Homo sapiens: one gene and its partners. The protein of the gene in region 3 interacts with the protein of the main gene of each other region in a biochemical or structural test. Each region holds a gene or a part of one and is shown on either strand. Other genes may lie near its edges. The genes, in order: MOB4, EIF4EBP1 and STK3.

Region 1 (10,258 bases), on a different chromosome or scaffold from region 3:
ATAGCCAAAAAATGGAAACAACCAAATATCCATCAACTGATGAATGGATAAGCAAAATGTGTTGCAGCCATCTCTCAGTAGCCTCAGAGGATTGGTCCCAGGACCCCCATGAATACCAAAACCACAGATACCAAAGTCTCTTATATAAAATGGCATAGTATTTGCATATGACCTATGCACATCCTCCTATATACTTTAAATCATCTCTAGATTACATATAATACTGAATACAATATAAATGCTATATAAATAGTTGTTATACTGTATTTCTTAATTTGTATTATTTTTTATTGTTATGGGGTTTTAAAGTGTAGTTTTGATCTGCAGTTGGTTGAATCTGCAGATGCAAAGTGCTGACTGTATGTGTACAATGGAATAATATTCAGCCATGAAAAGGAATGAAGTCTTAAAGGGAGAAACATACAGTACGGCATTTTGTATATATTAAAAACATTAAAGGCTAAAAAGTTTTGAATTTTAAAAAAAGGAATGAAGTACTGATTCATACTACACCATGGATAAGCCTTGAAAACATAATAGAAGCCAGACACAAAATGCCACTTATTATATTATTTCATTTTAATGAAATATCCAGAATAGGCAAATCCTGTGAAACAGAAATTAGGTTGGTTGTTGCTTAGGGCTGGGGGAAGGAGAGAATGGGAAGTGACTGCTAATTGGTTCAAGGTTTCTTTTTGGGATGCTGAAATGTTCTGAAATTTAGTGGTAATGGTTGCAGAATTTTGTGAATATACTAGAAACTACTGAATTTTTAAGAGTAAATTTTAGTTGTATCAATTATATCTTAAAAGTCAAAAAGTAGCCCATTAATTTTATATCAATTACCTGCTGAAATGGTATTATTTTGGATATAGTGGGTCAAACTACAATATTAAAATTAATTTCACCTCTTTCACGTTACCTTTTTATTTTTTATTTTTTAATTTTTATTTTTGAGACGGAGTCTCACACTCTTGCCCAGGCTGGAGTGCAGTGGCGCGATCTTGGCTCACTGCAAGCTCCGCCTCCCGGGTTCTTGCCATTCTCCTGCCTCAGCCTCCTGAGTAGCTGGGACTACAGGTGCCTGCCACTGCGCACAGCTAATTTTTTGTATTTTTAGTAGAGATGGGGTTTCATCGTGTTAGCCAGGATGGTCTTGATCTCCTGACCTTGTGATCCACCTGCCTCGGCCTCCCAAAATGCTGGAATTATAGGCGTGAGCCACTGCGCCCGGCCTCACGTTATCCCCTTTTTAATGTATCTCTTAGAAAGTTAATTAATTAATTTTTTGAGACGAAATCTTACCCTGTTATCCAGGCTGGAATGCAGTGGCCTGATCTTGGCTTACCTCCCTTGACCTCCTGTGCTCAAGCAATCCTCCTGCCTCAGCCTTCTTGGTAGCTGGGACTACAATCATAGTGCCACCATGTCTGGCTAATTTTTCAAATTTTTTGTAGAGATAGGGGCATTTCCCTGTGTTGCCTAGGCTGGTCTTGAACTCCTGGACTCAAGTGATCTTCCCACTTTGGCCTCCCAAAGTGCTGGAATTACAGGCGTGAGCCACCACATTGGGCCTAGAAAATTTAAAATTAAATATATGGCTTGCATTATACAGTTGACCCTTGAACAACTCCGGGATTGGGATCCCAACCCTCTGTGCAGCTGAAAATCTGAGTATCTAACTTTTGACTCCCCCAAAACTTAATTACTAATAGCCTACTGTTGACTGGAAGCCTTACCGATAACAGTCGATTAACACACATTTTGTATGTTCTGTGTATTATATAGTGTATTGCAATGAAGGAAGCTAGAGAAAATGTTATTCAGAAAATCATAAGGGGCTGGGCGTGATGGCTTATGCCTGTAAACCCAGCACTTTGGGAGGCTGAGATGGGAGGATCGCTTGAGGCCAGGAGTTCGAGACCAGCCTGGTCAACATAGTGAGACCTTCTTTCTTTCTTTTTTTTAAAGAAAATCGTAAGGAAGAGAAAATATATTTGCCATTCATTAAGTGGATCATTGTAAAGGTCTTCCTTGTTGTGTTCATGTCGTTGAGTAGGCTGAGGAGAAAGAGAAAGAAGTGGGGTTGGTCTTGCCGTTGCTGGGAAAATCTGAGCATAAGTGGATTTACGCAGTTCAAACCTGTGTTGTTCAAGGGTCTGCTGTATTTCTGTTGATGATTCTGGTTTAAAGGTTGTAAAACTGTCTCATGGTATACCCAAATGACAAATATGAGAAATACAGTTACTTGGGATATTTGCTTTTGACCAACTCATCTGTGGTCATATATCTGGAGAAAGGTAGTTTTTTTCAATAAATATTGCTCATGGTACTGTTTTTGGCAAGGAGTCCACTAATCAGAAATTCCTGTGGATATATTGTTAGAAAAATACTTCTTTTTTATTAGGTAATTTTTTAGTGCCACGGCACTAAGCCATATTTAGTAGTTACTAAACCGTATTTCTAAGTGACAGCTTCAGTCTCAAACTTGAAAAATAACCTAATTACTGGGTAGAGTCTTTGAGCTACAGTCATTGTTACTCCTTCCTCTAGTTGTTTTTTCCTTCTGGTTGACTCCCTGGTTTGTTTCTAGACTGCTTTCCCCTTGATGTTGCTCCCTGTCTGCCCTCAGGAGGACTGGATGAGGACAATTACTTTGCAGTTTTATTTTTCCTTTAATAAATTTACTGAGTTGCCATGAGACAGTGTTTCATTGTTTCTTTTTTTCATTGTTTCTGATAAATGGAACAGAATAAGTCAGATTTATTAAAATATAAGGAAACTTTGATATTTCATGTTAAAATTCAAAGGTGATCTGGGAGAAAGTTCTTTAGAGGGCTGCTAGATTGATAATAGAGTGCTAGGGACATAATAAGGAATATTGTTTAGGATATAAGAAGGCATCCCTGGAGATACCAGAGATAAATCAGGATTCTTCTTGTCTGTAATTGTTGTTTTCTTGTAGGTACGATGTTGGGAATAAAAATGGGAGACTGGTTTATGTATCATCTAGAATTGTGATATGGTTCAAGGGGATAATAAACCTTACTTATTAATATAACATTATATTTTACAAGCATTCGGAAATTGTAAGGAACTTTTTTCTTAGAACATGCTCATGTCTTTGGAATAAGGTATACCCATATAATGAATATATCTAACTTAAGAGAGAGCTCTTTGTTGATGCATTTCTATATTCTTTCTTTTGTAGTGTCCTGCTATAGACTATACTAGACACACACTTGATGGTGCTGCATGTCTTCTGAATAGCAATAAATATTTTCCCAGCAGGTAATCGAAACTTTTAAACATAGTGTTAAACATTTTAGAGTTAATTTATAAGATTGGTATTTTAGGGGGGAGGGGGGAGGGATAGTATTAGGAGCTATACCTAATGCTAAATGATGAGTTAATGGGTGCAGCACACCAACATGGCACATGTATACATATGTTACAAACCTGCACGTTGTGCACATGTACCCTAAAACTTAAAGTATAAATAATAATAAAATAAAAGATTAGTATTTTAAAAGTAAAATTAGGTTGCTCGTTAATGCATTTTTGTATTTTTTTTTTTAGCTGTTGTATTTTGGCTTGTTTATTCAAGTTTTGAAATTAGGACTGTGGTTAAACAGCAGAACTTGGCTGTCAAAGCTCAAGGCCAGTTCAGTCTAAGGCTAGTACCTGTTCATATATGTCATTCTGCAGAGCTCTCCCTCTCATGCTTTAGAGTTGGGATATGTATATACTTGCTCACTTGAATCTCTATGTTAGTTAGACTCGACCTCCCTTTATGTAGTATGCCTAAAGAGCAGACTTTCTGGCTGGGCGCAGTGGCTCACGGATGTAATCCCAGCACTTTGGGAGGCCGAGGCGTGCGGATCACCTGAGATTGGGAGTTCGAGACCAGCCTGAACAACATGTAGAAACTCCTTCTCTACTAAAAATACAAAATGATCTGGGCATGGTGACGAGTACCTGTAATCCCAGCCACTTGGGAGGCTGAGGCAGGAGAATCGCTTGAACCCAGGAGGCAGAGGTTGTGGTGAGCCGAGATCGCGCCATTGCACTCCGGCCTGGGCAACAAGAGCGAAACTGTCTCAAAAAAAAAAGAGCAGACTTTCTTATTTGTTTTTGAAGGATTCCTTATCCTTGCTCATTGATTTTTAAGATCTGAGAAGTCTGTACATGTAATATATTATCGGTGAAGTTTGTGACTGCCTTTTATTTTATTAAGGTATTTGTTACCAGGTGGATAGATTTGGAGATTTCCCCCACCAAATATGATTAGCTTCAAAGAGCTCATATAAAATATGTTAAGAAAAATACTGACTTTTGACCTTAATATTCTGTGTATACATATTTTAAAAAAGGATATCAGAAATATGCAGAAAATTTCAATTTTAAAAAAACAATTTTAATTTCTCTCTCTCTGTTTTTCTTTTTCTATATGGAGTCTTGCTCAACCAGGCTGGAGTGCAGTGGCGCAATCTCAGCTCACTGCAACCTCTGCCTCCTGGGTTCAAGCGTTTCTCCTGCCTCAGCCTCATGAGTAGCTGGGATTACAAGTGCCTGCCACCACGCCTGGCTGATTTTTGTATTTTCTAGTAGAGACGGGGTTTCACCATGTTGGCCAGGCTGGTTTCGAACTCCTGACCTCAGATGATCCACCTGCCTTGGCCTCCCAAAGTGCTGGGATTACAGGCGTGAGCCACCACACCTGGCCTTAATTTCTAAAAAAAAAAAAAAAAAAAAGAAAAGAAAAGGAAAGAATAACCTAGTTCTGTAAAATAAAACAATAATTCCTTTCAGGAGTTTTCAATCGCCTCTAGTGGACAATGTATTAATGTTGGAAATAGATGTTATAGTAAATTTTGAAATGTCAGGGATTTATTCTAACTGCATTAAACTTTTACAAAGTTTCAAAACTATAATGCTGAATTTAAGTTAGGCCCTGTGATTAGGTAGAAAGAACACTGGCCTAGAACTGAGGAGCAGGGGCTCCAGGCATTTACTCGCAGTGTGACCTTGGAGTAGTCGCTTATTTTCCCTAGGTGTCAGTTTCTACACTTGTAAGCGAGAAATTGGACTATATTGTTCCTAAGATTCTATCCAGTTCTAAGAATCTATGGTTTCTTTTCTACTTCTAGGGTTAGCATAAAGGAATCATCTGTAGCGAAACTAGGATCAGTATGCCGTAGGATTTACAGAATATTTTCACATGCTTATTTTCATCATCGGCAGATATTTGATGAATATGAAGTAAGTATATTTCACTGATTATCTTGATGCATTCTTATCAGTGTAACAGTAATATATATTGATGTTATTTCTAGTCTTTTAGTTTGGGATAGTGAATTAAAATAACATTTTTGTCTTCCTCTCTACAGAATGAAACATTTTTGTGTCATCGGTTTACTAAGTTTGTGATGAAATACAATTTGATGTCCAAGGATAACCTGATTGTACCAATTTTAGAAGAGGAAGTACAGAATTCAGTTTCTGGGGAAAGTGAAGCATGAAGGGAATCATAGGAAAAATGTACTGATCATATAATTAACATTATGTACTGTATATATCATTTTAGACACATCAATCATGTATCCATATTATAGCTTCTTTGTTTAGTATAGGTTTTTGTATGCTGGGTTTGCCTTTTAAAATGGGAAATACTTTTTAAGTTATTCATAAGCTGTATATTCACCAGTGTGGCACTCATGGTTTTTAAATAAGATTAGTATTATCTGTTTATAATGCCTGTTAATAAAAGAATTTACAGTTTGGTAAAATTGCTGCTAAACAATCATTGGATCACAATCCTCATCAGACAAACCCATCTGTAAAAAAAATGAGGGAGAGCTTGAGGTTTCACACAAGCCATTTACTAAAGAGGTAGAAATGTTTTCTATTGGTTTTACCTTGAGTTTAGATATCCTAAAAAATTCTGTAGTACGTAGTTTTGTCTTACCTGTTAACTTTCCCCAATTGAGATAAAAGTGTTTTAAAATTCTGTTTATAGTTTTTGATATGCATATATAATTATGTGTATATCTAAATACAAATGCAAATGAAGCATTAGTAATACTTAAATAATTTTACTGTGCTACATAAAGTATAACATACTTGGAAAGGATTTACCGTTCTGCAACAACGGACTGGTACATACAGGATGATCACAATGGTAAGGCACATAAATTATTTTCCCACTGGAAACCTGCCCTGTCCACCCCTTCTCATTTCCCTTAACCTTATCTTCAAACTACTTTAGCTGAGAAGCTTTTCACCAGACTGAGTTAGTGGTGGCTTATACCTATTTATATTTGTATTAATTGCTTACAGATTATACCTCATATTAGCAATTACATTACACTACAAGAAAATGTATTTGCATAGGCTCTTGCTTATCTTTGTTTTGCAAAATTGTTCTACTTAGAAAACAGTCCTTAAAATAGTTTGACTCTTCCTGTTAGTAATATATTAATCTTTCATTTAACCAGCTAGGCAGCATTAAATAGAATTGAAGAAATACCATAGTATTTATTTTACACCCCCTCTCCCACGAAGTTTATGTTTGGATTACATGCACGTGTGAGATTATTTGCAATAATTCATAGGTTCCAAGGGTGTTGATGAATAGTCATACATTTTTTTGGACTTTGTTATAATTCATTGTGGTAAGAATGATTGAAATGCAGATTTAACAATCTTATAATCTATTGAATGCCATTTTTGATAAAGCACTGGAGGTCTTATTGCCAAACTGATTGTAATGAGGCAGTAAGGGTGAAAACATTGTACATGTTGTGAAGAAAGTATTTAAATCCAACTTTTGAACAGATTTAACAAACATGAGGAACTTTTTTATTTAGAAGGATAATTTTGAAGATGAAAATGTATTCATCTTAATTGTTTTTTCAAATTTAAGGGAATAATTTATACCATCTTTTCAGACAAGAATGTACAGCAAAAATAAGGGGAACAGTAGTATACTGAGAGTGTGTGTATGTATAGTGTATGCCTTTCCAAGCTTGCCAGTCTTTTTGGCTTTGAACACTGCCCATCAGCTACAGTCATTACTGTTCCCCAACCCACAACTATCTTTTAAGAAGTCTTAGTTCACAGTGAAAGGAATGATGACTTTGAAATTATGGATTTATATTAATGGCACTATAAACCAATGGTAATGGTAATTTTTAAACTTGCTAAATATTGAGAAACTAAACTACTAAGTTAATAAATTATATATAGCAGTGTAGCTGTTCTCTCTAGATGGTGTCTCACAATGGATTTCTGTTGCTTGACTATTTTCTTAGTGAATATTTATACTAAGGTAGTGACTGAGATTTGGTGATCTGGCTGAGTATTTTGAAACACATTTTGAATAATATGGCTTAGTGTTAACGGGGACTTAAATATGATTTTTTTTTCTTACTCATTTCACCTTCCCTGTACTGTATGTTTGGAATTGATCATAAAACATCTCCAAAAGAAAATAATCAGTTTGTAGTCTTGCTTTTGTATTCATGTTGATAATCTTACTAATTGTGAAGTTGATTCACTACTATACTAGGTAAGACCTAAGTGAAACAGTTCCTGTTTTTCCTTAATACTGTTTTCAGAATTTTGAAAATGTACTTATATATACATAAATACTACTAAAAAATTAATGAGCCTGGCAAACCATTGATTTATAAAAGTAAGTGTTCTAAGAGGGGAACAAGACAGTTCTGTGTGATAAGGAAGTTAGGCTCCACTTTTTGTTTGAATTACCCTATGTATATCCGAAGGTAAACTTAGGCTTTTCTTTCCAAAAGATCGTATAGTCAATTCATTCTTTTTCTCCTATCACATCTGGGAAAGTAGCTAACTTTTAACTATTTATGTTCCCATAAGTAACCCTTCTTTTGTGTGTATACATTTCCTTTTCTCTGACTTGAGATGTCAAATTTGGATTTCTAGAACAGTTTCTCAGTTAAATTCTTGATGACTTAACAACTTTTACTATCAGAATACAATTAGAAATCCTTGGTCAGGCACAGGGGCTCACGCCTGTAATCCCAGCACTTTGGGAAGCCAAGGCAGACAGATCACCTGAGGTCAGGAGTTCGAGACCAGCCTGACCAACATGGAGAAACCCTGTCTCTACTAAAAATACAAAAATTAGCCGGGCGTGGTGCTACTCGTGAGGCTGAGGCAGGAGAATCGCTTGAACCCGGGAGGTGGAGGTTGCGGTGAGCTGAGATCGTGCCATTGCACTCCAGCCTGGGTAACGAGCAAAACTCCGTCTCAAAAACTCCGTCTCAAAAAAAAAAAATCCTTGATTACATTGTTAGTAAGGACTGTGTTACGATTATAAACACATTTATTGGTTGATGTCAAATTCACTGTAATAGTAGAACTAAGTTTTTTATGTGAGTACTTTGCCCTACTGTCTATATGATGACATCTTTTTTGAGCAGCTAAATTTTAAATTGTATATACTTTATTTTGTGAATCCTTGTTGAATGTGCTAAAGGTTTCTTTGTGTAGTTCTTCCATGCTATGCGAATATTTTAGTAAAAGTAGTTGATTTTTATTTCTTCAAGCATCTCATTGTTAACAGACAATACATATGGACCAGATGTAGTGGCTCACGTCTGTAATCCCAGCCCTTTGGAGGCCAAGGTGGGCAGATCATTTGAGGCCAGGAGTTCAAGACCAGCCTGGCCAACATGGTGAAACCCCATCTCTACTAAAAAAATACAAAAATTAGCCAGGTGTGGTGATGCATGCCTGTAATCCCATCTACATGGGAGGCTGAGGCAGAAGAATAGCTTGAACCTGGGAGGTGGAGGTTGCAGTGAGCCGAGATTGCACCACTGCACTCCAGCCTGGGCGACAGAGTAAGACTCCGTCTCAAAAAAAAAAAAAAACGTATTTGTGCAATATGCTTAGCAGTTTATTTGAGATGATAAGAACATTCAAATCTGTTTTCCTGAAAAAATATGCATTATTAGTATAGAGTACACTATGAAACCGGAAAGCTACCAAGTGAATCCTCTAGAGGGTTAGATTACCTATCTAATAATAGGTTCATTGTGGAGCCTTACTCTTCATTTGTATGACTTTTCTGCTACTTTTTTTTTTTTAGGCGGAGTCTTGTTCTGTCACTCAGGCTGGAGTATAGTGGCGCAGTCTCGGCTCATTGCAACCTCTGCCTCCTGGGTTCAAGTGATTCTCCTGCCTCAGGCTCCTGAGTAGCTGGGACTATAGGTGTGCATCACCACGCCCGGCTAATTTTTGTATTTTTAGTAGAGATGGGGTTTCATCATACTGGTCAGGCTGGTCTTGAACTCTGACCTCAAGTGATCAGCCTGGCTCGACCTCCCAAAGTAGTGGGATTACAGGGGTGAGCCACAGTACCCGGCCTACTTTTTTATAGTACACAAAGCTTCATATCAAGTGTGAGCACCTAATGTAATTAAGCAAAGAGAATACTAAATTTTCGTATTAACCTAAATTTGTAAACGATAAAAACATTGGCCGGGCGTGGTGGCTCATGCCTGTAATCCCAGCACTTTGGGAGGTCAAAGCCAGTGGATCACCTGAGGTCAGGAGTTCGAGACCAGCCTGACTAACAAAATGAAACCCTGTCTCTACTAAAAATACAAAAACTAGCTGGGTGTGGTGATACGCACTTATAAACCCAGCTACTTGGGAGGCTGAGGTACAAGAATCTCTTGAACCTGGGAGGTGGAGGTTGCAATGAGCTGAGATTGTGCCACCGCACTCCAGCCTGGATGAGAGAGCAAGACTCCATCTCAAAAAAAAAAAAAAAAGAAAAGAAAAAATTGACACCGTGAACTTAAATCCATGAAGTATGTCAATTAAGTGATGATTCTAGGATTAACTGTGACATCAATATTTAAAACTAGTGAACTGTTCATTTTTTCATAAGATCAAGATAATATGCTGATCTGGATTTGTCTCATAAACCTTGTTAAAAGCAGTTTTTAATTCCATAAGTAGTGTATTTATCTTTTTTTATTTTATTTTTTGAGATGGAGTCTCACTCCTTTGTCACTCAGGCTGGAGTGCAGTGGTGTGATCTCGGCTCACTGCAACTTCCTCCTCCCAAGTTCAAGCGATTCTCCTGCCTCAGCCTTCCAAGTAGTTGGGACTACAGGCCTGCACCACCGCACCATCACACCCGAGTAATTTTTGTATTTTTAGTAGAGACAAGAGCTTCACCATTTTGGCCAGGCTGATCTCGAACTCC
Region 2 (9,590 bases), about 61 Mb from region 3:
GGAGGCAACGTGCCAAAGGCCAGGCCTGCCACACATCACCATGCACCTGGACTCAGCTGCTTTCAGTCCTTGTGAGGGAAGGGGGCTGCAACCCAGCTATAGAAAAGGCCAAGCAAGCAACTTGGCCACTGAAGGTCTGCTGCTCTCCAAACAGCAGGTGGACAAGTGCTATGTGCTCGGAGCTTGTTAAGTAAATGCCAGCCACTGCCTCTTGTTCATAGGCCATCCACCCACCAGCATACCCTGTAATAAGAAATTCCTATTGCTTCTCAGCAAAGATCTCTGCCTAGTTACCATTCAAGACCTTCAGAAACCTCACCCTTCTTTGGCCATTTGTTAAAGTCATTCTCACCCATACAAACTGCCTGCTCTGACCAAAGCAGGCTACTATGTCTCTTCCCTGAACACCCCAGCTCCCCAAGACCATCTGAGCTTGGCAACACTGGGCCCCTGCCTCCCCCAACCCACTCATTCCCAGGGTCCAGCTGTAGCATCACCTCCATGAAGCCTCTACTCTGTCACTGGAGTGCAGTGGCACAATCGTGGCTCACCACAGCTTTGAACTCCTGGGCTCAAGTGTTCCTCCCACCTCAGCCTCCTGAGTGGCTAGGACCACAGGTGTGCACCACCATGTCTGGCTACTTAAAAAATTTTCTGTAGAGACGGGGTCTTACTGCGTTGCCCAGACTGGTCTCCCACTCCTGGCCTCAATCAATCCTCCCACCTCAGCCTCCCAAAATCCTGGGATTACAGGCTTGAACCACTGTGCCCAGCCTATGCTACCTTTACTTTCGGGCAAATCTTACATTTCAATGAAATTTTCAAGGCAGAGAGCTTGTCTGTGTTTGTGCCACACATGACAGCTCACACAAAGCGATCAATTGGCAAAGGTCGAGTGCCCGCAGATCAGATGCCACACTGGCCAAGGCAGGGGCTCTTCCCTTTGACTCTTGCATGGAATGGGCCCTGACGGGAAGGTGCCAAACTCGACAGGCTTGGGGTTGAGAGAAGGGGGAGAAAGCACAGAAGCGAGGCAGCTGCCTTGCTACTGAAAAACAAGAGATCAAGAATACCAGGGTATGGGCTGGGCGTGGTGGCTCACATCTGTCATCCCAACAATTTGGAACGCTGAGGTGGGAGGATCACTTGAGACCAGGAGTTCAAGACCAGCCTGGGCAACATAGCAAGACCTTATCTCTACTCACAAAAAACTTAGCCAGGTGGTGGTGTGAACTTGTAGTCCCAGCTACTCAGGAGGCTGAAGCAGGAGGATTGCTTGAACCTAGGAGTTTGAGGCTGCAGTGAGCTAGGACTGTGCCACTGCACTCCAGCCTGGGAGACAGAGCAAGACTTCGTCTCGGAAAAAAAAAAAAAAAAGAGTAGCAGGACTCAAATCCAGTCCCATGTGCCATTCAGCAGCTGCACGATTTTACCTGTTCTTGTGCCAGTCTTCTCAGCTGTAAAGTGAGGATAACAGTTGTTCTACTTACCCACAGGATCAGAGTCAGAATCAAATAAGGACAGGCCCACGCTTTAGAAGCACTGTACAAGGCTGGGCACGGTGGCTTACACCTGTAATCCCAGCACTTTGGGAGGCCAAGGCGGGTGGATCACCTGAGGTCAAGAGTTCGAGACCAGCCTGGCCAACATGGTGAAACCCTGTCTCTACAAAAATACAAAAAAATACTAGCTGGGCATGGTGGCGGGCACCTGTAATCCCAGCTACTCGGGAGGCTGAGGCAGGAGAATTGCTTGAACCCAGGAGGTGGAGGTTGCAATCAGCTGAGATTGCGCCATTGCACTCCAGCCTGGGCCACAAGAGTGAAACTCCGTCTCAAAAAAAAAAAAAAAAAAAAAGCAGCAGCACTGTACAGATAGCAGCTGGTGTTAGTTACCAAACAGAGTTGAAAAAAGCTCAGACGGGGCCCAACTCTTGGCCCTAGGGCGAAGGTGGCTTTTATTTCCTCTCTTGGGGAAGGAGGGGGAGGGAGCTTTCCCAAGCACATCAACCTAAGGAAGGGGTGGTTGCGCCCCCAGCAGCGAGGGGCTGGAACTGCTGATCATTCGGAAGGAAGGGTTCGTTCTTGTCCACTTCCTGGCCCTTGGCTGCAGGGTGTGCTGGCAGGGGTCACTCCCCTTGGGGTGGCAGCTCCTGCATCAGTGGAGGCACAAGGAGGTATCTGCTGGTGTTCACGAAGAGGAGGGGGCAGGTGCCCTGAGTGAGGGAGAAAGGGCTGGGGTGTCCGACCCCACGCCAACGCCTGCCCAGTATGATCACTTTCATAAGGCCTGGCTGGTGGGACTCCTCCCAGGAAGGCCCTGAGGGGCCCCTTGGTAGTGCTCCACACGATGGCTGGTGCTTTAAATGTCCATCTCAAACTGTGACTCTTCACCTGGGGAGAGAGGGGACAGAGGGCCAGGTCAACAATGGGTGAATGCTTGGTATATGAGGCCATTCTTTCATTGCTATAAAGAAATACCTGAGGTTGGGTAATTTATAAAGAAAATAAGTTTTTTTTTGTTTTTTTGTTTTTTTTTTTTGAGATGGAGTCTCACTCTGTCTCCGAGGCTGGAGTGCAGTGGCCCAATTTCGGCTCACTGCAACCTCCGCCTCCTGGGTTCAAGCGATTCTCCTACCTAAGCCTCCCAAAAGAGTAGCTGGGATTATAGGCACCCACCACCACACCCAGCTAATTTTTGTATTTTTAGTAGACCCGGGGTTTTGCCATGTTGGCCAGGCTGGTCTCGAACTCCTGATCTCAGATGATCCACCCTCCTCAGCCTCCCAAAGTGCTGGGATTACAGGTGCGAGCCACCGTGCCCAGCCAAGAAAAGAGGTTTAACTGGCTCGCGGTTCTGCAGGCTGTACAAGCATGACGCCGGCCTCAGCTTGGCTTCTGGGGAGGCCTCAGGGGGCTTTTCGTCATGGTGGAAAGCAAAGCGGGAGCAGGCATGTCACATGGAGGAAGCAGGAGCAAGAGAGAGGGTGGAGTGGCGCTCCCACACTTTACAACAACCAGATCTCGAGAGAACTCATTCACTATCATGAGGACAGCACCAAGCTGTGAGGGATCTGTCCCCACGACCCAAACACCTCCCACCAGGCCCTACCTCCAACACTGGGGATTACAATTTAACATGAGATTTGGGCAGGGACAAATATCCAGACTATATCATTTCGTCTGACTCTTGTTGTTTTTGCTTTTTTCTTTAGAGACAGGGTCTCACTCTCTTGGCCAGGCTGGCGTGCAGTTACGCAATCATAGCTCACTGCAGCCTTGACCTCCTGGGCTCAAATGATCCTCTGGCCTCAGCCTCCCAAGTAGTTGGGATTACAGGCATGCACCACCATGCCTGGCTAATTTTAAAATTTTATGTAGAGATGGGGTCTTGCATTGTTGCCCAGGCTGGTATTGAACTTCTGGCCTCAAGTATTCATCCTGCCTCAGCCTCCCAGAGTGCTGGGATTTCAGGCATGAGCCACTGTGCCTGGCCACCAGCTGATGTTTTTAGGGGCCAGGGACAGCCCCTATTTTTTGAAAGTAGATAACTTGTTTAGTTTCACAGGCTCACAGCTGGAAGGAAATTAAGCTTGAGATGAATCATGCTGTGAGTCTTGTCTGATTCAGATGAAATTCTGGACTTTGAACTTTTGAGCTAGGACTGCAACGTGTTAAGTCTTTGGGGATATGGGGACCAAATTAATATATGTGTATATGAGAAGGACATGAGTTTGGGGGGTCCAGGGCTGGAATGCTATGGTTTGAAATTCATACAGAAACTTAATCCCCAATGTAACAGTATTAAGAGTTGGGGCCGTTAAGAGGTAATTGGGTCATGAAGGCTCTGTCCTCATGAATGGATTAGCCCATTCCTGGATTAATGGGTTACCACAGGAGTGGGCTAGTTATCACAAGAGTGTTATAAAAAGGCAGCTTGGTTCTCTCTCATGTGCCCCTCTTGCCCTGTGATGCCTTCCGCCATGTTATGATGCAGCAGGAGGCCCTCACCAGAAGCCCAGCAGATGCGGGCACCATGCCCTTGGCCTTCCCAGCCTCTAGAACTGTAAGAAATAAACCATTTTTCTTCATAAATTACCCAGTCTCAGGTATTCAGTTACAGCCATAAAAAAACAGACTAAGACACAGGCAACTATTGTCTGTCTTGTACTGTGAGGTTCCCAAGGTAATTATGAATCATGTCCTGCAGGCCCTGGGGAGATTAATTCTGCTGCTGTTAGCAGAGCCAGCCAAGCTGAGGTCCCTGCTGCTTCCTGTCTGGGCCTGGGGTACGGCCTTCCGGGTGAAGGGTCGGCGGGTTCCAATCTGATTATAGTTGCCCGGAAGTGCTTATGCTGCATCATCTTGCAGCAGAGAACTCCAACACTCTGCCAAGCCAGTCAGGATGCCACAAAGAGTGCATTCACTTACACCACTACCACAGTGGCTGCTCTAATTACTCGGGAGGTGGGGACAGCAGGAAGGACCCAGCTACCAAATGTCAAATCGGCAGAGACAACTGGCTGCATTGTTTCTACCTGCCTTCATGAAGATCCACTAGGGGACCAACAGCCCAACAGGAGGCATCCCGGATGTATTTCTTATCTTGTAGACATATAATTTCCCAAAGGACAAGTACACTGTGTCTTTGATAACTTGTCTCTTGCACCACAAACATCATGGGTGTGTTCCAAGTGGAAATGCTTCAGAGACAATTATACAGAGGCACATGCTTACGAAAGTTGCTGTGTGCAGCCGCTGCCATTTCAAACAAACTCCCCGCTAATTACATGACCCAAAGGTGCCAGATCACCTTTCCTGAGGTGCCTGGGCCCCTTTCAGGGGGAAAGTTGCTACCAATGAAGAGTTCAACCTCCCCACCCCTACTCTCACCCTCTGGGCTCTGAGCTGCTCCTTAGAGGGTAGGGCAGAGTCCCTGTTGTTCCTCCTCCCTGGAATTGCCCCCAGTGGATGGACTCCAGGAGCCTCATACATTCCCTTTCCCAAGGTAGAGCCTGGCCAAGCCCCGACACTCACCGCCCGCCCGCTTATCTTCTGGGCTATTGCGCAGGTGGCTCTGGCTGGCTTCCATGGGGGGCTCATCACTGGAAGGGCTGGTGACCCCCGGAATGGTGGGCAGATCCCTTGGGGGTGTTTTGGTCACAGGTGAGTTCCGACACTCCATCAGGAATTTCCGGTCATAGATGATCCTGGTACCTAGAAGGGAACAGGGAGGTTGGTCAAGCCATCTGCAGCCTCTTGCCTGCCGGTTTTTCCACTTTTTAAAGGCGTGGCTGCAGTAGAGGCAGCAGATTCTCCTGAAAAACCCAGAGGAGGCTGGGTGCGGTGGCTCATGCCCATAATCCCAGCACTTTGGGAGACCAACATGGGTGGATCACCTGAGGTCAGGAGTTCGAGACCAGCCTGGCTAACATGGTGAAACCCCGTCTCTACTAAAAATACAAAAATTAGCCAGCGTGGTGGTGGTAGCCTGTAATCCCAGCTACTCAGGAGGCTGGGGCAGGAGAATCACTTGAACCTGGGAGGCAGAGGTTGCAGTGAGCCGATTGCACCACTGTACACCAGCCTGGGTAACAGAGCGAGACTCCTTTTCATAAAAAAAAAAAAAAAAAAGCCAGAGTAGTGAGGCTTATTTGGGGGCCTGGCTGCCACCCAGAACTCTGCTACCTCCAAACGGCCCCAACTCCCCTTCACATGGAATGATCCAATGGAAGGGGTCTGCAGGCCACCAACTGCACCTGTGTCTTCCCAGAGCTCTGTGCACACTGTGCTCTGTCCCTATAGCCCCTCAGCTCACTCACCCACCTGGGCTTAGTGTTAATTACCCATGACAATCACATACCACGGTGGAAAAAATGCATTTCTAGTCATTATTCAGTCCTGTCCTTACAGCACTCCTGTGGGATACCCAGAATAGCTGCATTTTACAAATGACCAAACAGAAAATACTTGTGATTCAACCAGAGTAGTAAAAATAAGAACTTTTGCCAGGTGTGGTAGCTCACACCTGTAATCTCAGCACTTTGGGAGGCCACCGTGGGAGGACTGCTTGAGCCCAGGAGCTTGAGACTAGCCTGGACAACTTAGAGAGACCTCATCTCTACAAAAATGTTAAAATGAGTCGGGCATGATGGGTACGTGCCTGTAGTCCCAGCTACTCGGGAAGCTGAGACGGGAGGATTGCTTGAGCCCAGGAGGTCCAGGCTGCAGTGAGACCCTATCTCAAAAAGACAGTTCCAAAAAAAAAAGAGAGAAATGCCTGGGCTTTGCGGAGAAGAGCCAGAGGCAGGAGTGAAGGGTGGGCTCTCCTGCTGAGCCCCTCCTTTGTGAGGCCCCCAGTGTGTCCTGCCAGTGTGTCACTGACCTTGGAATTCTACCCCACCATCCCAAGTAGCTGGGATTATAGGTGCGTGCCACCATGCCCAGCTAATTTTTTGTATCTTTAGTAGAGACGGGATTTCACCATGTTGGCCAGGCTGGTCTCAAACTCTTGACCTCGTGATCTGCCTGCCTCGGCCTCCCAAAGTGCTGGGATTACAGGTGTGAGCCACCGTGCCCGGCCCCTTTGTATCTTTTTATAGCTACCTTCTATTTATGGCAAGTGAATCCGGTGTTCCATATATAGTAGTGATAGCAATTCCTTTTAATATACAATAATATAATAATATATTATAGATTCTATAATAAAATAATGTAAATTAAATTCAAAAGCTAAGGTGATATAAAGAAATATTAAATATCTGTACAAGTGGAATGCAAGGTATGGTAATAATTGTGCAGATAAAATATGAATAACCCAAGTTTGGGAATCATGATTTAAGGACTTCAGGAATGCCCTTCCTTAGCAATAACCTTGAAATCTCTCCTTCACTTAGGGGCTATGATGAGTAGCATTCCAACAGCTGAGATTCATTTCTTACACTTTATTTTACTTTTTTGATTTTTAATTTTTATGGATCCATAATAGTTGTACATATTGAGATTCATTTCTTGATGCTCAGCACTGGACTCTGTAAACCCCTGGAAAGGAACCAATTTCCATCTCGGAGTCTGAGTGTGAGTTCCTGAAACGGGGCTCTGTGCTGAGGATGACGTGAGATGCTGAAGGGCAGAGGAATGCAGAGAGATACCTAAAGATAAACTTCACCTGCTGGCTGTGTTCCTCTAGTCTGGCTGTGGCCCCTCCAGGCAGTCACTGGTCTTACTCTCCTGTCCCCTTGCAGGAGAGGCAGTGATACTGAAGCTGACAGCCCTGCTCATTGCCTATGGGACTCCAGCGCACAGCTGTTTCTTAGGAGGAGGGGTGTAAAGAACCAGGGTGCATTTGGGCTCCGTTCCCAGTCAGCTGTGTGACCCTATGCACCTTGCTCCTTGCACCCCCTGTTTTGGGCCTCCATCTCCTCATCTGTAAAATAAAGACCCATGCACCTTCTAGGTCTGAGTGCCTATGAGCCCAGATTACAAATGGAGAGCAGTGGTGCCCTCTCTTTGCAGGGCTGGGGTGACAGTGAGGGGAGGTAAGGGAAGACCAATTTCTAACTCTTTTTTTTAAAAAGTGACCCAGATTTGTTTTGGTTCTAGAGGCCAGATGTGGCACTGCTCCACTCTGCAAGGCTTGGGGTTGTACAATCTCTCCTCCCCAGAGGGGAGGGAAGCCCAGAGACCCCAGGGTCCAGGCAGCGGGGTGGGGACTCAGTGGACAAGTGGCTGGACATCCTGGCTCCAGATGGGACCACTTTTTTTCTGTTGTTTCTTAATCTTTGAGACTCGGCAAGAGTGCCCCCCTTCTTGTTTCCCCCCAACTTTGCTTTTTGTTTGTTTGTTTTGAGATGGAGTCTTGCTCTGTCACCCAGGCTGGAATGCAGTGGCACAATCTTGGCTCACTGCAATCTCTGCCTCCTGGGTTCTAGCAATCCTCCCGCCTCAGCCTCCCCAGTAGCTGGGACAACAGGCATGTGCTATCACGCCCGGCTAATTTTTGTATTTTTTGGTAGAGACAGGGTTTCACCATGTTGGCCAAGCTGGTCTTGAACTCCTGACCTCAAGTGATCCACTGGCCTCAGCCTCCCGAAGTGCTGGGGTTACAGACATGAGCCACACTTTTTTTGTTGTTGTTGGTTTGTTTATCATAGCGTGAAACCTAAGAGTTAAAGATTCAACAGTCTCAAAGAAGCGCCCAGGGGCCAGCAACCATCTGGAGAGCCTCTTTAAAGGTCATCAGCCCCTGGTGACTTTTTAAAAATTGTGGTGAAATACACATAACATTGACCATCTTAAACATTTTCGGTAGGGTGTTGTGCTACCATCACCGCCAATCATCTCCAAAACGTTTTCATCATGTGAAACTGAAACTCTACAACAACTCCCCTTCCCCACTCCCTCTAGGCCCTGGCAAGCAGGGTTCTACTTTCTGTCTCTCTGAATTTGACTACTCTAGGTATCTTATATAGTGAAATCATACAGGATTTGCTTTTTCATGACCGGCTTATTTCACTTAGCATAATGTCCTCAAGGTCCCTCCACACTGTAGCATGTGATAGGATTTCCTTCCTGCTGAAGGCTGAATAATATCCCATTGAGAGTGTGCGCGCATTTTGCTTATCCTTTCCTCTGACTGATGGACACCTGGGTTGCTTCCACTTCTCAGTTATTGTGAATCATGCTGCTATGAACATGGGAATACAAATACTTCTTGAAGATCTTGCTTTCACCAGCCTGGCCAGCATGGTGAAACCCCGTCTCTACCAAAAATACAAAAATTAGCCAGGCGTGGTGGCACACACCTGTAATCCCAGCTACTCTGGACTGAGGCAGGAGAATCGCTTGAACCTGGGAGGCAGAGGCTGCAGTGAGCTGAGATGGCGCCACTGCGCTCCAGTGAGCTGAGATCGCGCCGCTGCCCTCCAGCCTGGGCGACAGAACAAGACCCTGTCTCAAAACAAAACAAAACAAAAAAACAGGCCAGGTACAGTGGCTCATGCTTGTAATCCTAGCACTTTGGGAGGCAGAGGCAGGCAGATCACCTGAGGTCAGGAGTTCAAGACCAGCCTGGTCAACACGGTGAAACCCTGTCTCTACTAAAAATACAAAAATTAGCTGGGCGTGGTGGCACACCCCTGTAATCCCAGCTACTTGGGAGGTTGAAGCAGGAGAATTGTTGAACCTGGGAGGCGGAGGTTGCAGTGAGCCAAGATCATGCCACTACACTCCAGCCTGGGCAACAGAGCAAGCAAGACTCTGTCTCAAAAAAAATTAAATCATTAATTATACTTAAAAGTGAAAGAAAAAGCCTCTGTGCCCTTTGTTCTATGGCTACCACAGTTACTTAAAAATAAGAATCCTAATTTTACCTAATAAAAGCAGAGATTTCAGTTGGGGAGGGGTCTGTGAGGAGTAAACAGCAGCATGCAGAAAGTCAGCCGAAGGCTGGGTGAGGTGGCTCGCACCTGCAATCCCAGCACTTTGGGAGGCTGAGGTGGGAGGATCACTTGAGCCCAGGAGTTTGAGACCAGCCTGGGCAACATTGCAAGACCTTATCTACAATTTTTTTTTTTTTTTTGAGATGGAGTC
Region 3 (10,296 bases):
GTCGCCCAGGCTGGAGTGCAGTGGCACTATCTCGGCTCACTGCAAGCTTCGCCTCCCGGGTTCACGCCATTCTCCTGCCTCAGCCTCCCGAGTAGCTGGGAGTACAGGTGCCCACCACCACGCCTGGCTAATTTTTTGTATTTTTAGTAGAAATGGGGTTTCACCTTGTTAGCCAGGATGGTCTCGATCTCCTGACCTCGTGATCTGCCCGCCTCGGCCTCCCAAGGTGCTGGGATTACAGGCGTGAGCCACCGCGCCTGGCCGATTACCTTACTTTCACAGTTAAGTGAAGCTGGGTGACCCTTACCTGTATCTCAAATGTTCCTGCAGCTTTCCTTTGTTCATGAATGCTGCTGCCTCTTATTTGCAGTTTGAATGGTGACTTCTATGCTTTCTTCCTGGAATCTTCAGGTTGGTTTTCAACAGACAAAGTAAAACAGAAGCTTGAAGCATTTTTTTTTCTTCTTCTAAGTAATTCAGGAGAAAAACAATTCCTTTATTGAGTAACACACAACACACCAGGCACAGTCCTGCCTCTGGGCCTTAGCACTTATTGTTCCCTTGGCCTCACATTCTAACATTCCCTTGGCCTCACATTCATGCTATCTGCATGGCTCTGGCCTCCACTTCCTTAGTCACTCTCTCGTTGAGGCCTTCCTTTGCCATCCTACCTGAATTTCATCCCTTCCCCTCCACTTTATTTTTATTTACTTTTTATTTTTTTGAGGCAGAGTTTTGCTCTGTTGTCCAGGCTGGGGTGCAGTGGCGCAATCTTGGCTCACTGCAACCTCTGCCTCCCAGGTTCACGCATTCTCCTGCCTTGACCTCCTGAGTAGCTGGGACTACAGGTGCCCACCACCACACCCAGCTAATTTTTGTATTTTTTTAGTAGAGACGGGGTTTCACCATGTTGGCCAAGCTGGTCTCAAACTGCTGACCTCAAGTGATCCGCCCACCTTGGCCTCCCAAAGTGCTGGGATTATAGGCATGAGCCACCACGTCCGGCCTCTTCCCCTCCACTTTATATTCCCTTTTTCCATTTCACTTTTCTTCCTTACCAGTTTTCAATCTCTAACATGACCCATTAGGTACTTTTTTATCTTATTATGTTTCCCCAACCAGAATGTAAATCCCCTGAAGGCAGGGATTTTTGTCTATTTGTCTCTTTTCTTTACTGATGAATATCCAGCACCTAGAACAGTGCCTGGCATACTTAAGTGCTCAATAAATATTTGTTGACTGATCTACAGTGGAATAAGTTCCAGCTTTGGAGTCTTAAAGGCCTGGATTAGAACACAGACATTCTGTTTATCCTAGGGTAACTCCTTTCACACTTTTGAACCTCAGTTTTCTCACCTATAAAATGGAAATAACTACTTCACAAGGTTGTTTTCAGGGTTTAATGAGAAAATGGAGGCCTAGTGTCTGATCCTATTGGAGTCGTATGATAATTATTAGTCTTCTCCCTTTTCAAGTTGAGGAAAGACCTCAGAAATTTATTTTCTGATAGTATTCCTCCTACTTCCACAATTCTTTATGGGTGTATCAGTCAAGATCATAAGCCCTTTAGAAGGTGCAATCAAATTAGTGTCAATTGAAAAGAGTTTAATTTACAAAGCATCAGTTGAGGATTGAGGTTAGGGGAACATAGGACATAGAGAAGAAACCCAGGGAATAGCAGAGCAGCCATGATACTCAGGCCCAAAGGGTCAAGGGGAAGGAGGAATAATTAGGTAGAGTAGTTTGCCTTGCAAAGAGCCATGATTCTCTGGAACACAGCTAGCCCTAGGTCACCTCACAGGAAGGGAACCAGGGCATCCAATAGTCTGACCTCACCCTCCTTTCTCCCTCAGATGATCTCTTGCTGGGTCTATCATCAGACCCAACCATAAGCCAAGGGGCTTCTGATGTCAGCCATACATATTAGCTCTCAGAGCAGAGAGCAGATGGAAAAGGATGGAGAATGAATCTGCAGGACCAAAAGGATGCTATCCAGCCCAGTGCCCTTACGATTTATCAGGCACTTGCTATGCAAGGTATAGAGAATAAAGATATGGCTCAACTTTCAATCAACTCATAGTTGGGTTGGGATGACAGCCTAATAAACAGAACTTCAATATAGTGTGACAAGTTTCATACAAAAGCCAACACAGGGTACTACGGACATATATACAAGACAGTATCTCTATCACAACTTAAATGTGACAGATAGTGGGTGATGATGCTGGTGGTTTGACTGGGAAAGGCTCCCTGGAGATTGCTGTTGGTAAAACAATTCAGGGATCATTTATTTTCTTTCTTTCTTTCTCTCTTTCCTTCCTTCCTCCCTCCCTCCCTCTCTCTCTCTTTCTTTCTTTCTTTTCTTTCTTTTGAAACAGGGTCTCACTCTATTGCTCAGGCTGGAGTGCAGTGGCTTGATCATGGCTCACTGAAGCCTAGTAGTTGGGACTACAGGTGCATGCCACCATGCCCAGCTATTTCTTTTGTTTTTTTTTTTTTTTTTTTTTTTTTTTTGTAGAGATGGGTTTCACCATGTTTCCCAGGCTGGTCTCGAACTCATGGGCTCAAGCTATCTGCCTGCCTTGGATTCCCAAAGTGTTGGGGTTGAAGGTGTGAGCCACCTCGCCCAGCCTTCCTCAAGAGGTTTCTCTGATGAAACACAAAAAGATGGGAGTGAGCCTGGCATAGTGGCTCATGCCTGTAATCACAGCACTTTGGGTGGCTGAGGTGGGTGGATTGCCCGAGGTCACGAGTTCAAGACCAGCTTGGCCAACATAGTGAAACCCTGTCTCTACTAAAAACACGAAAAATTAGCTGGGCGTGGTGGCGGGTGCCTGTAATCCCAGCTATTAGGGAGGCTGAGGCAGGATAATCTCTTGAACCAGGGAGGCAGAGGTTGCAGTGACCTGAGATCACGGCATTGCACTCAAGCCTGGGCAACAAGAGTGAAAGAAAAAAAAAAAAAGCTGGGAGTATGGCATGGAAGTGAAGATGAGAGTTGGGGGGGTTAGAGTGGAGTAATTTCAAAGATTCTTCTCAGCTTTAACATTTTAAATATTTAGGTTTTAAAATTGTTGTTGTCCTGTTATTTCTGAACAGTCAGACTGTGGATCTTTAATAAATGCAAACAAGTATAAAATTTTGTAGCCGGGCATTGTAGTCCTAGCTACTTGGGAGGCAGAGGTGGGAAGATTGCTTGAGCCCGGGAGGTTGAGGCTGCAGTGAGGCATGATCACACCACTGCACTCCAGCCTGGGGAACAGTGAGAACCTGTCTCAAAAAAACAAAACAAAAAAAACCCTTTTTCTTGTTCTCAGAATTAGAGTTTCAAAAATGAATGGTCTTAAAATAACTAAATTTAGGAAAGAATATAATGGTTTGAAAATAGTGTAAGTTTATTACATAGTGAAACTTAAAATAATGCAAAAAGAGGACTAAACTAAACTTGTATTAGCTGCTAATAGTCAAGTTTAATTTGGGCAAATATTCACATTATTCAACATTCTCTTCAAATTGGTTTCCTTTATTTAACATTCTCTTCATATTTATTGTTCTAACCTCCAAGAAAATTCTATGTAACTCTACATCTTGACAATTTCTTTCTTTCTTTTTCTTTTTTGAGACAAGGTCTGCTCTGTCACCCAGGCTGGAGTGCAGTGGCGCGATCTCGGATCACTGCAACCTCTGCCTCCCGGGTTCAAGTGATTCTCTTGCCTCAGCCTCCCAAGCAGCTGGGAGTACAGGCGCATCACCAGGCCCGGCTAACTTTTGTATTTTTAGTAGAGACGAGGTTTCACCATGTTGGCCAGGCTGGTCTTGAACTCCTGAGCTCAAGTGATCCGCCCGCCTTGGCCTCCCAAAGTATTGGGATTACAGGCGTGAGCCACCGCGCCCGGCCCATCTTGACAATTTCTGACAAAAACAAGTAAACTCATGTAGCAGCTGTATATTGTTATGTGAAAGGTATATATGGAATTTAAGGTTAAAAGCAACCTCTGCCTCCCGGGTTCAAGTGATTCTCTTGCCTCAGCCTCCCAAGCAGCTGGGAGTACAGGCGCATCACCAGGCCCGGCTAACTTTTGTATTTTTAGTAGAGACGAGGTTTCACCATGTTGGCCAGGCTGGTCTTGAACTCCTGAGCTCAAGTGATCCGCCCGCCTTGGCCTCCCAAAGTATTGGGATTACAGGCGTGAGCCACCGCGCCCGGCCCATCTTGACAATTTCTGACAAAAACAAGTAAACTCATGTAGCAGCTGTATATTGTTATGTGAAAGGTATATATGGAATTTAAGGTTAAAAGTATACCCACAATATGGATGCATGCAGTGGTCAGATTACAATGGGATGAGGGCTGCTGGAATCAGGTTGGGGGAGAGGACCAAAGAGGGGAGGAAACAAACTTTTCTTGAGTATTCTTCCTGGCAGCATAATTTGTGACAGGCTTGCCAGGTTACCCAATGGGACAGCTGCAAGGGCCCAGTGCAACTGAATTTGGTGTACCGAGAGATCTCACTGTACGAATTATTTTCTCGGTAATTAGATGTAATTATTGTGAAATGTAGCGAGGAGCTTGTCCACAATAAAAATCAAACAAGAATTTCCAGAAGTATCCCTAGTACTGTGGCCTACACATGTCAAATGGCTGGGGGAAAACATAACCGATAATTATAAACAGAACTAGAGAGGGAAGCGTGGGCAGTGAGAAAGTAATACTTCAAACGGATTCACACGATGTTAGGATGTGTCGTTGGGAAAGCCAAAGAAATGAGTCAAATTGGATCAGGGCAAACCGTAGTGAGGGCAGGCTAGGGGCGGAGCTCTGGGCCAGCTCAGAGGGACTTGCCCTTCCCCAGCCTAGAGCGGCTCCGGCCTCGCCCCCTAGCTCTAGCGGAACCTTCTCCTTTTCCCGGTCACGGGGCTCTGGGGCCAGCCAGGCCTTCGTCCCCGGCCCCGCCCACCCGCCGCGGCACCGGCCCCGCCCGCCAACCCAGGCCGCGGCAGGCTCCGCCCCCCGCCGCGGTGCCCGGCTCCGTCCACCTTCTCTGGGCCGCCGCCGCAGGCTGGCGGCCGGCGCGGCCGGGGGCGGGGCGGGGCGGCCGGGGGCGGGGCGGGGCGGCCGGGGGCGGGGCGGGGCGGCCGGGGGCGGGGCGGGGCGGCCGGGGGCGGGGCGGGGCGGCCGGGGGCGGGGCGGGGCGGCCGGGGGCGGGGCGGGGCGGCCGGGGGCGGGGCGGGGCGGGAGGAGCCGCGCTCCTAAGCGGGAGGGAGATCCGCCGCGGAGTTACGGGAAAGTTGGTCCGAGTTCCCAGAGTTTCCCTCTGTGGTGCCCTAGGCTCGGCCGGCCGGTGCCCCGGCTCCTTTCCTCCTTTCGGCCTTCGCCGTCCACCAGGTCCCTCTCTCTGTCCCCGGCCGCCATGGAGCAGCCGCCGGCGCCTAAGAGGTAACGAATCGGGGAGCGGGAAGAAGGAGGGAAGCGGCGCCGGCGGCCGCGGGGCGGGGGTGGCTAGGCCAGGCCCTGCTGCGAGCCTCTCCCCGCCCGCCGGGCCCCGAGCCGGGCGCGCTGAGGTCGGGAGGCGGGTCCGAGTGTCCCGCCGCGTCTGTCCACGGGCGAGGGGACCTGAGGGGAGCGGGAGCCGGAGCCTCCCCTGCGGCCGGCAGGCCTGGCGCGTGGAAAGTCGGGTGGGCAGCGCCGGGCTCCCTGCGGCCTGACCTCCCGGGGCGGGAGGAATTAAATATTAATAGCTACACAGTCTGTAAAACATTGTGGATGTGCTGCTCTGACAGGTGTTCTTCCCCCTTCCCCCTCAAGTTCAAAAGTATTTATGGATGCAAGACAGTGGGAAGTTTAAATTAGAACCCCCTCCCCCAATATAGTTTTGCGTGTAAAAATAGTGCTGCTTTGGTATGGTATTTACTGTTATTAATAGTTTATATTTAATCTTTGACACCTGTGTTGGAAATGTATGCATACAAGAGTGGGATGTGTTTGAGCTAATATTTGCAATGATCTTAGGAAGCCAAATCTAGGTTGTCCATTGACAGAAGTTCATAATATGTATTCCTCTCTCCCCAAGAATGAATTAACGAATTGTTTGATGTTGCTAAAATATTTAACCTCAGTCTTTCATTTTTAACTTATAAAATAAGGATAGTAATCTCTCAGATAGTGCTGTTGTGAAGATTAAAGAGTTCGTATGCTTTGACAGCTAGAGATCTTTAGATGAAAGGTGTGTTCAAGAACATGGGATAATTGAAAAGTTAGGAACTTTGGGAGCTATTGTGAATTGTGTGACTAGACATGTGAGCCTTGAAGCCTGGAAGCCATCTGTTCAGGTGAAAAAAAGGGGGGGTCGTGAAGGAGTTTCCAAAAGGGACCTGCTGTCAGAGCACTTGAGCAAGTCAATTGATAGATTCTTTTCTAGCATTTTGTAAGTTACCTGCATTCTACTCATTGGGCACCGTTTTAATACAATATAAGAGAATTGGGCACTTTTTTCTTTTCTGGAAGAACTGGAAGGAGCACCTCTGAGAAAACACAGTAGTCCAGTTTGAACAACTCTGAATTGAAGTGCAGCTCTCTATTGATTAGCTGTACTGTAAGTTATCAGAGTTTCATTATAGGTGTAAGAGAATCCTTGCCCTTGTGGAGACATTAGAGAACCTGGAGGAGTCAGGGGCAGGTGTAGGCAGCAATTCTGTGGTGATTTATACTTTTCAAAGTGGTGGTTGCACTTTTAACAGACTTATTTTTAGCTTATTCAGAGTCTTATTTTGAAGTAGTGAACAAAAATGCCGCAAAAGCATTTTTGAAGGCGAAAGATATGTGACAGCAATCCCTGATATTTGAATGTCTCAACATTTTTTATAGAATTTTCATATTCATAATATTTAATCCTCACAGCAACCCTATGGAGTAGATTGGATTATAGGCATTAATCCTAATTTATAGATGAGGATGTTGAGAGAGTTTGCCACATGGAAGGCTATGACAGGAATTACTGGCAGTTTTGCCCCTATTGATTATTATCTCCTAATAATGAAATATAGCTACTCGTTTTGAGGTCATCCTGTTTGCCAGGAAATTTAAGTATACATTATTTAAATCCTAAGAAATAGTAATCCTGGCTCTGCTACTTATTATGCTAGTTCTAAGTTTAATTTCTTCATCTGTGAAATGTATTGTGGGGATTAAATGAGGTGATATGTAAAGCACTTGGGACAGAGCGAGACCCTGTCTCAAAAAAACAAAAACAAAACAAAAACAACAAAAGATAATGGGGACTAATTTAATAAATATTTATGTATCACGACTGAGCTTAAGAAATAAAATTTGACAAATATATTTGAAGCCCCTATGTGTTCAACAGTGTTAGTTGTTAACTTATGTTTTCCTTATTATATGAGGCTCAAAGACGTTAAATAACTTGGTCAAGTGGAGAAAGTGCCAGAATTCTGCATCTGATTGGCTACAAAGGCTGTGCACCCTCTTGTTGTATACAGTGATGGCTCTTTTTGAAACTCTCTTTCTTATCATTCCATGATGTAGTGGTCCTCTTTTTCTGTAATCTCCTGGTCTCTGTTGCTTATTCTGCTCTTAATCCTTATAAAAGTGCCATTTTGCTTTTCTGCCTTGAATAACACTTCCTTAGTGCTGACTTTTACATGGCCTTATCGATGTCGTTGATGTTCAAGTATGACTAGAAGCTGCTGCTCAGTTGGCATTTTTTATTTTTTCAGGTAGGTCTTACTCTTTCATTATCCCATCTAGTTTGTCACTATAGCCTATCAAATTTTCTATTAAAAAGTTGGTGGATTAATTTTTTCTGTTTTCTTTCTCAAGAGTACTACCCCATAAAACCCATTCCATGGTTTTATGACCCTCACTTTTGAATTGCAGCAGTACCTTCTAGCTGGACGCTTTAGTCCAGTGGTTTTCAAAACTATTTTGTTTTGTTTTGAGATGGAGGGGTACAATCTCGGCTCACTGCAACCTCTGGCATCCTGATTCAAGCGATTCTCGTCCCTCAGCCTCCTGAGAGGCTGGGATTACAGGCGGGCGCCACCACGCCCAGCTCATTTTTGTGTTTTAGTAGAGACAACGTTTCGCCATGTTGGCCAGGCTGGTCTCCAACTCCAGACCTCAGATGATCCACCTGCCTCGGCCACCTAAAGTGCTGGGATTACAGGCATGAACCACCGTGCCTGGCCCCCGTTGTTCTTTATTTATGTTATAGGCTGTGGGTACTCCCAGCTTTACCTTTATTCACATTTTTCCTTTAGAAAAGTTTGTGTTACTTTTTGCCTGAAGAATAATCTATGTTTTATTCTTCCATCAAAGCCTACCTCATCAAGTATGTTTTCTGAGTACTTTCTAGCCTGAGATATTTCACTGAATTCCTAATGTGATATACATTTGATTATATACCATCTTTTTATTCTATTTTATTACAAAATTTTAGATATCCAGAAGATAATGAGGGCCTACTGCGATGGTGCACGCCTTGTAATCTCAGCACTTTGTGGGGCTGAGGTGGGAGGATTGCTTGAGCCCAGCAGTGGGAGGTTTCAGTGAGCTATGATTGTGCCACTGCACTCTATCCTGGATGACAAAGTGAGACCCTGTCTCAAAGAAACAAAAATAAAAATAAAAACAAAACAAAAAGAAAAAAGAACAGAGCCTAATTTAATAGATACTTAGGTATTACCATCCAGTTTAAGAAATATTAATAAAAATATTACCAATACATTTGAAGCCACCATGTGTATTTCTTCTCAATTACACTCCCTTCCCATCCCCCAAAAGGTAATCACTGACATGAATTGGATATTTGTCCTTCCCATACATGCCTTTATATTTTTAGTATGTTACATATATATGTGTGTGTGTATGTGTGTGTGTGTATGTATGTGTGTGTATATATATATGTATGTATGTACACATATCAACACATAATGTTAGGCATGGGTATTAGGCCTGGCCTTGTCACTGACTTTGAAATTTGCTTCTTTGGGCATCTTCTTCTCCTCTGGGAGTTGGAGATTCCAGTGTGTAGCCCAGTTCAAGAATCATGACTCAGAGACCTAGATGATTTTTAAGGCACCTCTCACCCTCATATTCATTGATTTGGTCTCCTTAACAAGGTTTGTGTTAAACATAGGCAATAGATGTGGTCACCCATGTCACCAACTTGAGGTACCAGAGTAGTTTTTAGATTCCTTAGATTTCGTTAACATACTTGTCACTGAGGTCTTCAGAAGTCCTTTTTTTTCTTTTTAACTTTTTTTTTTTTTTTGAGATTGGGTCTTACTCTATCGCCCTGGCTGGAGTGCAGTGGCACAATCATGGCTCACTGCAGCCTTGACCTCCCTGTGCTCAGGTGATCCTCTCACCTCAGCCTCCCTGATTAGCTGGGACCACAAGCACGCACCACCATACCTAATTTTTTTTTTTTTTAATTTGTAGAGATGAGGTCTTGCCATGTTGCCCAAGCTGGCCAAAGTCGTTATTAAAAGGATTTCCCTCTGGGAAGGGAAATTCATTAAATCATAGATCCCCAACCATTTTGGCACCAGGGACCAGTCTCGTGGGAAACAATTTTTGCACAGATGGTTTGGTTGGGGGCGAAATGGTTTCAGGATGAAACTTCCACCTCAGATCATCAGGCAATAGTTAGATTATCATAAGGAGCGTGCAACCTAGATTCCTTGCATGCACAGCACAATAGGGTTCGCACTCCTATGAGAATCTAATGCTACTGATGATCTGACAGGAGCTGGAGCCCAGAGCAAGGGCGGTAATGCTCGCGTATAGCTCACCTCCTGCTGTGTTGCCTGGTTCCTAACAGGCCATGGACCAGTACTGGTCCACTGTATTGTGCTGTAAAGGAGTTGGGGACTCCTTTATTAAATGATCATTAATTAGCATTTTGGTTAGATGGAATTTGTTGGATTTATTTTATTATTTTATTATTTTTTTTGAGGTGGAATCTTGCTCTGTTGCCCAGGCTGGAGTGCAGTGGCACAATCTCGGCTCACTGCGAGCTCCGCCTCCCAGGTTCACGCCATTATCCTGCCTCACCCTCCTGAGTAGCTGGGACTGCAGGCGCCTGCCACCACACCAGGTTAACTTTTTTGTATTTTTAGTAGAGATGGGGTTTTACCGTGTTAGCCAGGATGGTCTCGATCTCATGACCTCGTGATCCACCCGCCTTGGCCTCCCAAAGTGCTGGGATTACAGGCTTGAGTTACCGCGCAGCCGAATTTATTGGATTTTTTATAGGGGAACTGCTAGCTGAGAGA

The links.
Region 1: of the proteins of STK3 (region 3) and MOB4, one has a biochemical effect on the other in vitro, tested with the Homo sapiens proteins (one study listed by BioGRID).
Region 2: of the proteins of STK3 (region 3) and EIF4EBP1, one has a biochemical effect on the other in vitro, tested with the Homo sapiens proteins (one study listed by BioGRID).

The regions. Positions count from the first base shown.
Region 1 is NC_000002.12:197,545,125-197,555,382, forward strand, and holds the end of MOB4 (MOB-like protein phocein), read left to right. Parts: intron 1-3,211; coding exon 3,212-3,291; intron 3,292-5,150; coding exon 5,151-5,262; intron 5,263-5,390; coding exon 5,391-5,522; 3' UTR 5,523-8,575; downstream 8,576-10,258. Other genes in the region: HSPE1-MOB4 protein, read left to right, coding at 3,212-3,291, 5,151-5,262, 5,391-5,522.
Region 2 is NC_000008.11:38,052,707-38,062,296, reverse strand, and holds the end of EIF4EBP1 (eukaryotic translation initiation factor 4E-binding protein 1), read right to left. Parts: intron 5,217-9,590; coding exon 5,037-5,216; intron 2,394-5,036; coding exon 2,362-2,393; 3' UTR 1,932-2,361; downstream 1-1,931. UniProt on the Homo sapiens protein: Repressor of translation initiation that regulates EIF4E activity by preventing its assembly into the eIF4F complex: hypophosphorylated form competes with EIF4G1/EIF4G3 and strongly binds to EIF4E, leading to repress translation.
Region 3 is NC_000008.11:98,820,656-98,830,951, reverse strand, and holds the start of STK3 (serine/threonine-protein kinase 3), read left to right. Parts: upstream 1-5,263; 5' UTR 5,264-5,411; coding exon 5,412-5,437; intron 5,438-10,296. UniProt on the Homo sapiens protein: Stress-activated, pro-apoptotic kinase which, following caspase-cleavage, enters the nucleus and induces chromatin condensation followed by internucleosomal DNA fragmentation.